3 linked regions of the Homo sapiens genome follow. The protein of the gene in region 1 purifies or fractionates together with the protein of each later gene. This does not show direct contact. Each region holds a gene or a part of one and is shown in the gene's direction. Other genes may lie near its edges.

Evidence for each region.
Region 2: the proteins of FYB1 (region 1) and DOCK2 purify together in Homo sapiens (tandem affinity purification; one study listed by IntAct). This does not show direct contact.
Region 3: the proteins of FYB1 (region 1) and ARHGEF2 purify together in Homo sapiens (tandem affinity purification; one study listed by IntAct). This does not show direct contact.

The regions. Positions count from the first base shown.
Region 1 is NC_000005.10:39,198,925-39,202,577, reverse strand, and holds part of FYB1 (FYN-binding protein 1), read left to right. Parts: coding exon 1-752; intron 753-3,653. UniProt on the Homo sapiens protein: Acts as an adapter protein of the FYN and LCP2 signaling cascades in T-cells. May play a role in linking T-cell signaling to remodeling of the actin cytoskeleton. Modulates the expression of IL2. Involved in platelet activation.
Region 2 is NC_000005.10:169,713,626-169,717,278, forward strand, and holds part of DOCK2 (dedicator of cytokinesis protein 2), read left to right. Parts: intron 1-402; coding exon 403-586; intron 587-734; coding exon 735-832; intron 833-2,587; coding exon 2,588-2,677; intron 2,678-3,653. UniProt on the Homo sapiens protein: Involved in cytoskeletal rearrangements required for lymphocyte migration in response of chemokines. Activates RAC1 and RAC2, but not CDC42, by functioning as a guanine nucleotide exchange factor (GEF), which exchanges bound GDP for free GTP.
Region 3 is NC_000001.11:155,961,548-155,965,200, reverse strand, and holds part of ARHGEF2 (rho guanine nucleotide exchange factor 2), read left to right. Parts: intron 1-69; coding exon 70-213; intron 214-2,017; coding exon 2,018-2,268; intron 2,269-2,482; coding exon 2,483-2,608; intron 2,609-2,978; coding exon 2,979-3,096; intron 3,097-3,291; coding exon 3,292-3,540; intron 3,541-3,653. UniProt on the Homo sapiens protein: Activates Rho-GTPases by promoting the exchange of GDP for GTP.

The DNA.
Region 1 (3,653 bases):
ATTTCCCTGGCCTCCTGGAAACAAGCCATCTCTTCACAGTGTAAACCAAGACCATGACTTAAAGCCACTAGGCCCGAAATCTGGGCCTACTCCTCCAACCTCAGAAAATGAACAGAAGCAAGCGTTTCCCAAATTGACTGGGGTTAAAGGGAAATTTATGTCAGCATCACAAGATCTTGAACCCAAGCCCCTCTTCCCCAAACCCGCCTTTGGCCAGAAGCCGCCCCTAAGTACCGAGAACTCCCATGAAGACGAAAGCCCCATGAAGAATGTGTCTTCATCAAAAGGGTCCCCAGCTCCCCTGGGAGTCAGGTCCAAAAGCGGCCCTTTAAAACCAGCAAGGGAAGACTCAGAAAATAAAGACCATGCAGGGGAGATTTCAAGTTTGCCCTTTCCTGGAGTGGTTTTGAAACCTGCTGCGAGCAGGGGAGGCCCAGGTCTCTCCAAAAATGGTGAAGAAAAAAAGGAAGATAGGAAGATAGATGCTGCTAAGAACACCTTCCAGAGCAAAATAAATCAGGAAGAGTTGGCCTCAGGGACTCCTCCTGCCAGGTTCCCTAAGGCCCCTTCTAAGCTGACAGTGGGGGGGCCATGGGGCCAAAGTCAGGAAAAGGAAAAGGGAGACAAGAATTCAGCCACCCCGAAACAGAAGCCATTGCCTCCCTTGTTTACCTTGGGTCCACCTCCACCAAAACCCAACAGACCACCAAATGTTGACCTGACGAAATTCCACAAAACCTCTTCTGGAAACAGTGAGTTCTTTTCTCGTTTGCTATTCAGTATGGTTTACTCCAAGGCAGAGAATGTTTTAGCTTCTGGGGAAAGTTTTGTAACAAGGAATGATTCTCTATATCTGGTACTCATATGTGTATAATGAATTTTCTTTGTCTTGTTTTTTTCTTTCATGTGGGAGGTCTGGGAAAGTAGGAAGTCTTCATTCTGTGAGAAAATGCCTTGGTCAGCTGGGGTTTTGTTGGGGGAAGGGAGAGGGAATGCATCCACTTCATTGATACGTGGTTTTGCTTAATGATAACCATTGTATTTACTTCCTTTGTTGGGTTTCATTTCTGTTGAATGAGACTGAGGTATGTTACCCCTATCAACACAGAGGAGTTAGACAGAAAATGAGCTATCCTGTAGGTCAGCAGTTCCCAAAGGGAACAATTTTGACCCCCAGGGGACATTTGGCAATGTATGGAGGCATTTTTGATTGCCACAACTGGAGGGTGCTACTGGCCTCTAGTGAGTAGAAGCTAGGGATGCTATTGAACATCCTACAATGGCCAGGACAGTCCCACAACAAAGAATTATTCAGGCCATAATGTCAATAGTACAGAGATGACAAGCCCTCCTTTAAGTGACTGCAAATATCCACACAATTCATCATGTTTCCTAAGCCCAGTATTCAAATGAGAAAGGAGCAGTACTCATGAAATGGTACTTTGTGTTTCACATTTTAGCTATTTTCCATTTCTCAGTATAAAGTTTTCTGAACTTTTATGATTCATAAAGTAATATATAGTTAGGAAAATGAGCCAGACAAAGGAGTACTTTACTCTCCTTTCGGGTAAATAGTTTAAATTTCTACCAGAGATATCACTGCAATTCTCTTGGATGTGGTACTGAGTGACTGCATGTAAGAAGCTCACACATGCCTGAGATGATTAATATTTTAGGTAAATGATGTGCAACTGTTGTTTATTGTGAGGGGGAAACAAGATGCCTACAGGTGACCACACTACTTGTAGTCGCATCTTTCTCCTTACCGAAGTATGGTCTAGTTAAAGCAATTCTAAGCCTAAAGGTTGTTTTTCGTTTTTGCACTGTAGAAACATCTTGCGATATGTTATCTTCCTGAGTTCAGTATTCTCCTTGTTCGTAAACAGCTTAGTGATCAAGTCCTCTGCTAATTCAAACACACAGAAAGCAAGTTTGGAATGATCCCATGACCATCTGTCTTCCAGAAAGGTTCATCCTTGTTTCACATTGCATCTCCTCCTCATCTGTCATCTTGTTTCATTACCAGGTCATAATTCAGAACTATTATTTTTGTGAGACTTTCTAAAAGGTCCCTTATTTCTCTTATTTCTTCACCTCGGATAAAAAATTTAGTATTATGACCTCCATTTTATGGCTGTGACTTCACACCAGGGAAGGAGTTCTGATGTTAGGCAGAAATCCCTGGGAACTTTCTTCCATCTTTGTTTCACTCCCGCTCCAGTGTGGGTGGTGGCAGAGCATGGTGGTAACACATGTTGCCCGGTGTCACGCTTTTCAGTGAGTTGCCACAAATGCTAACCAAGTCCTCTTTCTGACTCTGAAGGCCTGACAAGGTCTGATTTTTAGTGAAGTAAAGCTACAAGGGACCCAGGCAGAACTGCAGAGCAGACGGAGTTTATCCTTGTTCTCCTTCTCCTCTCCTTTGCAACCCTCCCCTGCTCCTGAATGCTTCCTCACTGTCAGTAGCCCATGCCACAGTTCACATTTTAAATCCTGTCATCAGTGTAACCCCCTCAACATCTGATGCCTTGAGATGTATTATGCTCCAAAATGTATCCTGTTCTCTATTCATTCACCTCTTCCACAAATCAAAACTCAATCCCTCTTAATCTAGATTGACCTCATTTGATATCTGGATTAAGCAATCTGATTCATAACTTTAAACTCTGAATAATACCCCTTTAAAGCATTCACCTTTTTAAAAAGCATTTGAATTCTTTTATCTTTTAAGTAGAAATTACATTCTGACTGAAAAAGCAGTAAGTGTAAAATGGTGTACAGTGAAGCTACCTTTAACCCTTGTCTGCCACTTTCTGGGTCTTTCCAGCCCCTACCCCATAGAAACCACTCTTCTTAATTTCTTATATGTCCATCTGAAGTTTCTTTATGTTCACAGAAGCAAATATGAACATAAATACTACCCCCCACCCCGGCTTTTTACTCATGAAGTAGAATATTATGTGCAATGCTCTGATCCTTGTATTTTTAAAATAAATAAATCCTGTATATCTTTCCACATTTTAATAAAGAGTAACTGATTATTCTCTAGAGTTGCATAATACTTCAGTAAATGGGTGACAAGCTTAATCAATTTAACAATTTGTGTTGTTTCCAAAAGCGTTCTTTTGCAACAATACTGCAGAAAATAAACTCGTGTATGTGTCATAAAGTAAGCATTTATTTTCTGAACACAAAGTTTTTTAAGTCAGGTCTGCTGACTCTTGATCCTGCCACTGCTATTTTTCTTAAACAATGCTAGAAATACTAAGTAATTTACCATTTCATTTAGGAAGGTTAAAATATATCAGAATTAGAAAGTATATGTTCATTTTATATAACTGGATAAGCAATATAAAGAAAAGAATTAAATTTCTGTTGTAGCAAAATTTTTTAAAATTCTGAAATTCTATTTTTTATAATTCTGGAGTATGTAAGTAGAAAATAAATAATTATTAAATAATTAAATAATAATATACATATACGTATACATAAACATGTGGTATATTGTACGTACAGTCTTTAGATGGGAAAATTCTTTATTAAGTGTAATTATCGCCCCCATTTCACAAATGAGTGTTGAGATGTGACATAACCAAATCATATATCTGAGGCTAAAATCCAAGTCTTCAGATTGCAAGTTTAATACTTTCTCC
Region 2 (3,653 bases), about 130 Mb from region 1:
CAGATCCCAGCACACTCTTACTTAGTGCCTTTGCCATTAAATTCCTCTTTAAGCTAGAGTCCTTATTTTGCTGGTGAGCAGATATTATGGTCTCAAAAAAAGGATGAATTAAAATGTACTGTCTGGGAATTTTCAATTCCGTTTTTATTTTGCCATTAATGAGGTTCACAGAGCTTTCACCTGGTGGATCAACCCCCTTTCTATTAATGTGTCTTTGAATTCTTACCTGTATTGTGGAAAAACAGTCCTGCCTCACCAGCCAATGTCTATTGCTTCTCTGATGATTTTCTTCACTCTTTATGACTCTCCCCACTTCACAGTGTCTAATTTGTCTGCTGCAGGCTCTGTGTGGCATTGGGCATGGAGCCTTGGCTTGGGGCAGTAACCAAGTGTTGTTTCCAGGGGGACAGCAAGAAGATGGAGGATGCCAGCGCATACCTGACCCTTCCTTCTTATCGACACCATGTGGAAAACAAGGGGGCCACGCTGAGCAGGAGCTCCAGCAGTGTTGGGGGGCTTTCTGTCAGCTCCCGGGATGTGTTCTCCATTTCCACCCTGGTGTGCTCCACAAAGCTCACTCAGAATGGTAATCGGGTCATCAAGAGTTGTGTCTGTGGGGAGTGTGTGTGTCCGTGTGTGTGTACATGTGTGTATGTGCTTGCAGACCCAAGGAGGTCCTGATATGGACAGTTAGGCCAGTAATGATACTTCTGAATGTCTGGACTCTATTTTAGTGGGCTTGCTGGGTTTGCTGAAGTGGCGTATGAAGCCTCAACTGCTACAGGAGAATTTAGAAAAGTTGAAGATTGTGGATGGAGAGGAAGTGGTGAAGGTCAGTGGGGCTTCATTTTGATTGTATTCTTACACTAGTGACAGAACTCTCCATGTGGGTGGCTTCAGGGGAAAAACAAGGTATTGAAGGACATGGGGAAACTTTTCTTCCAACAGTAGGATACACTCTCCCGAGTTGCCTTGAGGAATCTTTATTGGGAAATCCAGGGGAGTGACTTGGTTCAATGGCACTGAATGTTGGGTGCCAGAAAACAATGGTTATGCTCAATCTCTGGAAATAGATGAGCCTGGGTGTAAATCCCAGCTCTCCCACATGCCAACTTTATGTGATAATATAAAAGTGACATAGTTCTCAGGGCTGTTATGAGCATTCAAGGTGATAATATTTAAAACTTACTCAACAGTCTCTTACACATAGTACACAACAATTAAACCAAAGCATATAAAACAAAGTTCAATAAATGGTAATTATTATTTTTGTTGTCATATGTTGATATATATGTATATGCATATATATGTATGTATGTGTGTGAGCATATATATGTGTGCATATGTATATATACATATATATATAGTAGTATGATCTGTTAGTACTACCCACAGATCATTGTTAGAAATAAAAAGTATTCTTGGTTTCTGCTGCTTGGAGAGCATTATGTATTAAAGACGGGAAAGGGAAAGACATCAGGGCTTACATTTTAAGTGAAATAAGCAGAAAACAATGCAAATGTCAGATGTATTATTGCATCCACATGGTAGTGGAGAATAGAAAGCGTCTGAAGTGCAAATCTAATTAAAGCAACCCTTCTCTCCAGCCTTATGAATTGGGACAAGTGTTTCCCAATGGTCCTGGAGATCTTGTTTCCTTGATACAGCTAGAAATTCTGAGATTAAACATCTTTATATGGTAGCTCTGTGTTTTGAGGGATTATAGGAAATATTGACCCATCCCTTAGGAGGGAGGAAAATCAAGTTTTATTTAATTGCCTCTACCTGGAGAAGCAGTGGCAGAATTTCCAGATGCCGTAAATGTATACCACTGACCCATCTACCTCGTTCAGCAATGGCAGAGTAACTCCCCAAGACACCACTTTAATAAAGTCTATAGCCTTTTGGTAGCTTGGAGAAGTCATGGAAGAGATGAGGCTTTTGTTGTCTTCCTCTTGCATTCTTTTTTCTTTTTTTTTTTTTAAAAAAGTTTGTTATTTAAATATGATATACATATGATGAAATAGATACAGAGCAGTTATCTTAAGAGTATAGCATAATGGATTTTTACACACGTAAACACCATGTGTACTCACCACCCAGAAGAGGATACAGACCACTTTTAGCATTATAGTAGATTCCCTCATACCCCTTCTCAGCCAGTAGTCCCCCGGGGTAATCACTGTCCTGACAACCATCATTGTAGATGGGTTTTTGCCTACTCTCAAATTTCATAAGAATGGAATAGTGAAGAGTGTACTTTCTGTGCCTGATGTATTTTACTGCATATAATGCTTGTGAGAATCATCCTCATTTCTGCCTGTGGAAGTAGTTTGCACTTTAGTCCAGCTGTGTAGTATTCTCTAGTGTGAACATGCCACCATCTGTGCATCCATTCTGCTGTTGATGGGCAGTTGGGTTCCTCCAACTTCTGGCTCTCGTGAGTAAAACTACTCTAGACGTTTTGAGCATGACATGTGGTGGATGTGTGCTCTCATTCTCTTATAGATAGTTAGGAGTGGGATTGCTGGTTCACCTGTACTTTGTCTTGTTTCTGAAGTAGTGCAACCTTTGTTATTTCTTCCAGTTTCTCCAGGATACTCTGGATGCCCTCTTCAACATCATGATGGAGCATTCTCAAAGTGATGAATATGACATCCTCGTCTTTGATGCCTTGGTAAGAGAGAGGGGAAAAGTGTCTAGTGACAACAGGCATTAATGTATGTCTTACTGTGAAAATACTGAGAACTCATGGCCCTCATGGCCCTCATGGCCTTTTTCATGAATTCTTTGGAGGTGTTGTAATGTTTGGCAACAAGACCAATAATGAGCTGCTATTTCCTTTTGCTTCTTGCCAGTTCATTTGAAAGCATGAGGCATTGTGGGTGAAAGGGGAATTTTAAATGCTGATGTCAGATTGACACTGGCTGAAGGTACATGAGGCTGGATATTGTGAATGATTGCTTCTGCTTTCTATGAATGTTGGGAGCTAGTCCCTGGCTAGGTTGTAAAGCACCAAAAATGTTTCTTAGCTTTCCTTTCACCTTCTTCTCCCCATTTCCTCCAACTCACTAATCATTACATTTCTCCTACCCACCCAGAACTTTTCATGATGCTGTACCATCCAGATCTTCCTTCTTTTAGTCCTCCCCTATGGTCTTTTTGTCCTCTCCCTATCTCGACTCAGATTTTCTCAGTGTTATGTCAAAATAAACACAAGAAACATCTGCATTAGGGAATCAGTGCCCAACAAAGTTTTTAAGTGTTAACCCCTTGTGTCATGGATATTTGCATTTTTAAAGAGGTTACTGAGAGACAACTGTGGCTTAATCAAGTGCTTCCCCAGAGAGTACCCTAGAATGCTAGCTCTCAGAAAAGATGTTTCATGACAAATATATACTTTGATTAATTAATTTAGGGAAGTGTTGAATGTTGCATGACCCTTTTAGAGATTCACAATGTACATAAGTATATTAAAGATTCTAAAAAGTTTTGCAATAAGAAAGTCTAATAATGATAACCTGACATTTCTCAAAACCTATTTGACCATGAAATCCTTTTCATCTTATAACACCCCACAGCACACTTCATGAAACATTTTCTTTGGGAAGATGCTACCTTAATAAAGAGAACTCATTATGTATTAGTGAGCT
Region 3 (3,653 bases), on another chromosome or scaffold:
TAGAGAAGGGCCAGGGACCCAGGGAAGGGAACTCAAGACCTCTGAGTTGCTTGCCCTGCTAATGTCCAGCAGAGGTAATCTACAGTGAGCTGATGAGTGACTTTGAGATGGATGAGAAGGACTTTGCAGCTGACTCTTGGAGTCTTGCTGTGGACAGCAGCTTCCTGCAGCAGCATAAAAAGGAGGTGATGAAGCAGCAAGATGTCATCTATGGTAAGCCAAGACCACCCTAGTCTTCCTCTTCCTTCACCAGGTCCTGTTTATCTACTTCCTTCTTTATTTTTCTTTTTCTTTTTTTTTTTTTTTTTGAGATGGAGTCTCACTCTCTCAACCAGGCTGAAGTGCAGTGGCATGATCTCGGCTCACTGCAGCCTCCACCTCCCAGGTTCAAGCGATTCTCATTACAGGCGCCTGCCACCATGCTGGCTAAGTTTTGCATTTTTAGTAGAGACGGGGTTTCACCATGTTAGCCAGGCTGGTTTCAAACTCCTGACCTCAGGTGATCTGCCCGCCTCAGCCTCCCAAAGTGCTGGGATTACAGGCGTGAGCCACCGTACCCGGCTGTGTCCTTCTTTCTACCAGCCCCTACCTCTCAAAACCCTTTCCCTCTTGGCCTACAAGACCCTGCCTGGTATCCCACAGGTTGCCCACTAGGTCCCTACCTCTTGATGCTGTTGGTCTCCAACACCCTCTCTTTATCCCTTCTTTATCTCTGTCTTCAGTCTTTACTCTGTGCTTGTTCCACGCTTAACACCGTGCTGGAGACTGTGGGAAGCCTCGACATGTAGAAGACATATGGTTCTTACCCTAAAATAGCTCACAGCTTGAGATGATAAGGTGTAAAGATAAAAAATGGAACTGGGCGTGGTGGCTCATGCCTATAATCTCAGCGATTTGGGAGGCCGAGGTGGGAGGATCACTTGACGCCAGGATTTTGAGACCAACCTAGGCAACAAAGCAAGACCTCTGTCTCTAAAAAAAAAATATATATATATATATATGTATATATATATATATATATATATATATATATTTTTTTTTTTTTTTTTTTTTTTTGAAGCAGAGTCTTGCTCTGTCGCCCATGCTGGAGTGCACTGGCGCTATCTCGGCTCACTGCAACCTCCGCCTCCCAGGTTCAAGCAATTCTCCTGCCTCAGCCTCCCAAGTAGCTGGGATTACAGGCGCCTACAACTACACCCGGCTAATTTTTGCATTTTTAGTAGAGACAGGGTTTCATCATGTTGGCCAAGCTGGTCTCGAACACCTGACCTCAGGTGATGCACCCGCCTCGGCCTCCCAAAGTGCTGGGATTATAGGCGTGAGCCACCGTGCCCAGCCGTCTTTAAAAAATATTTTAAAAAACTAGTCAGGTGTGGTGGCATGTGCCTATAGTCCCAGCTACTTGGGAGGCTGAGACAGGAGGATCGCTTGAGCCCAGAAGTTCGAGGCTGCAGTGAGTTATCATTGTGCCACTACACTCCAGCCTGGGCACCAGAGTAAGACCTCATTTCTGGAAAAAAAAAAATAATAATAAAATTTTTGAAAGATAAAAATGAGGGCCGGGTGTGGTGGCTCATGCCTGTAATCCCAGCACTTTGGGAGGCCGAGGTGGGGAGATCACGAGGTCAGGATTTCGAGACCAGCCTGACCAATATGAAGAAACCCCATCTCTACTAAAAATACAAAAATTAGCCGGGCCTGGTGGTGCGTGCCTGTAATCCCAGCTACTCAGGAGGCTGAGGCAGGACAACTGCTCGAACCTAGGAGGTGGAGGTTGCAGTGAGCTGAGATCGCGCCATTGCACTCCAGCCTGGGCAATACAGTGAGACTCTGTCTCAAAAAAAAAAAAAAAAAAAGATAAAAATGATTAGAAAAGTATCTAAGATCATAATAATGCAGAATATTAACCTGGAATGGACCTTGAAAACCTCACGTGAACTGTGAGGTCCTTATCCTAGGGCCCCACGAGTTTTAGCCAAGCCAGGGTAGAGGCCAAATGTCCCAATGTCCCCCACAGAGCTAATCCAGACAGAGCTGCACCATGTGAGGACACTGAAGATCATGACCCGCCTCTTCCGCACGGGGATGCTGGAAGAGCTACACTTGGAGCCAGGAGTGGTCCAGGGCCTGTTCCCCTGCGTGGACGAGCTCAGTGACATCCATACACGCTTCCTCAGCCAGCTATTAGAACGCCGACGCCAGGCCCTGTGCCCTGGCAGCACCCGGAACTTTGTCATCCATCGCTTGGGTGATCTGCTCATCAGCCAGGTGGGAAAAGGCAGGACCCCTGGGTGACATTCATGGAAGGAGGTGTGACTGGGTTGGGCATTTCTTGGGTCCAAATTCTAGGGGTTGGAGGGGAGCCAGGGAGAGCTGGAGAAACAGGAAGCCAGCCTGTTTGGCAGGAGGCCAGAGGTGTGTCCAGTGGGTAAAGTGTGGCTTTGGGGGAATGCTGACCTAACCTTACTCGACCAACTTCTAGTTCTCAGGTCCTAGTGCGGAGCAGATGTGTAAGACCTACTCGGAGTTCTGCAGCCGCCACAGCAAGGCCTTAAAGCTCTATAAGGAGCTGTACGCCCGAGACAAACGCTTCCAGCAATTCATCCGGGTGAGCGGACCTCTCCAGATCCCATGCTCATGGCCCAAACCCACCCTCCCCAACTCATGGGGGTAGTGCCTGTGAGCTGCACCCACATGGAGGTCAGGCATTCGCCACCCGTGCAGACCATCCATACACAGATCCTGTCAGCAGTAACCCCTCAGAATGCTAGAGCACGTTGTGGTAGTTTCCCAAGTACTTTTTGCTCCTTCAGTTGGTCCTCACAACAAACCTGTGGCGTTGTTATCCCCATTTTCCAGATATGTCACCTAGGCAAGCATGAGGTAAATGGCCACGCCAGGGCCAGCACCAGAGCTCAGGCCCCAGGCCTTTCTGTTGCCCTCCCCTCTGGCCCTGAGCCCTGCCTCCTCCCTTGTAGAAAGTGACCCGCCCCGCCGTGCTCAAGCGGCACGGGGTACAGGAGTGCATCCTGCTGGTGACTCAGCGCATCACCAAGTACCCGTTACTCATCAGCCGCATCCTGCAGCATTCCCACGGTGAGTAGGCAGGCCCAGGAGAGGGCCACTGGGAGACGGCCACCTGGGGTGAGGAAAGGCTCGGTATGACCACAGGAAGGGTGGGGTCGGGTGTGAAACCCTGGGCAGCCTCTAAAGGTGGAATCAAGACACGATGGGAACTGGGGTGTGAGTGAAACTGGTTGAGCCGTTCCCCATGCCAACCCCCGGTGCCAGGGATCGAGGAGGAGCGCCAGGACCTGACCACAGCACTGGGGCTAGTGAAGGAGCTGCTGTCCAATGTGGACGAGGGTATTTATCAGCTGGAGAAAGGGGCCCGTCTGCAGGAGATCTACAACCGCATGGACCCTCGGGCCCAAACCCCAGTGCCTGGCAAGGGCCCCTTTGGCCGAGAGGAACTTCTGAGGCGCAAACTCATCCACGATGGCTGCCTGCTCTGGAAGACAGCGACGGGGCGCTTCAAAGGTCAGACCTGCTCGGCAGACTAGGCAGGAATTCAAAGTCAGATGGAGAGTGGGAGATGCCTGCAGGTCTTAGAATCAACCTCTCTTGGCCGGGTGCAGTGGCTCAACGCCTGT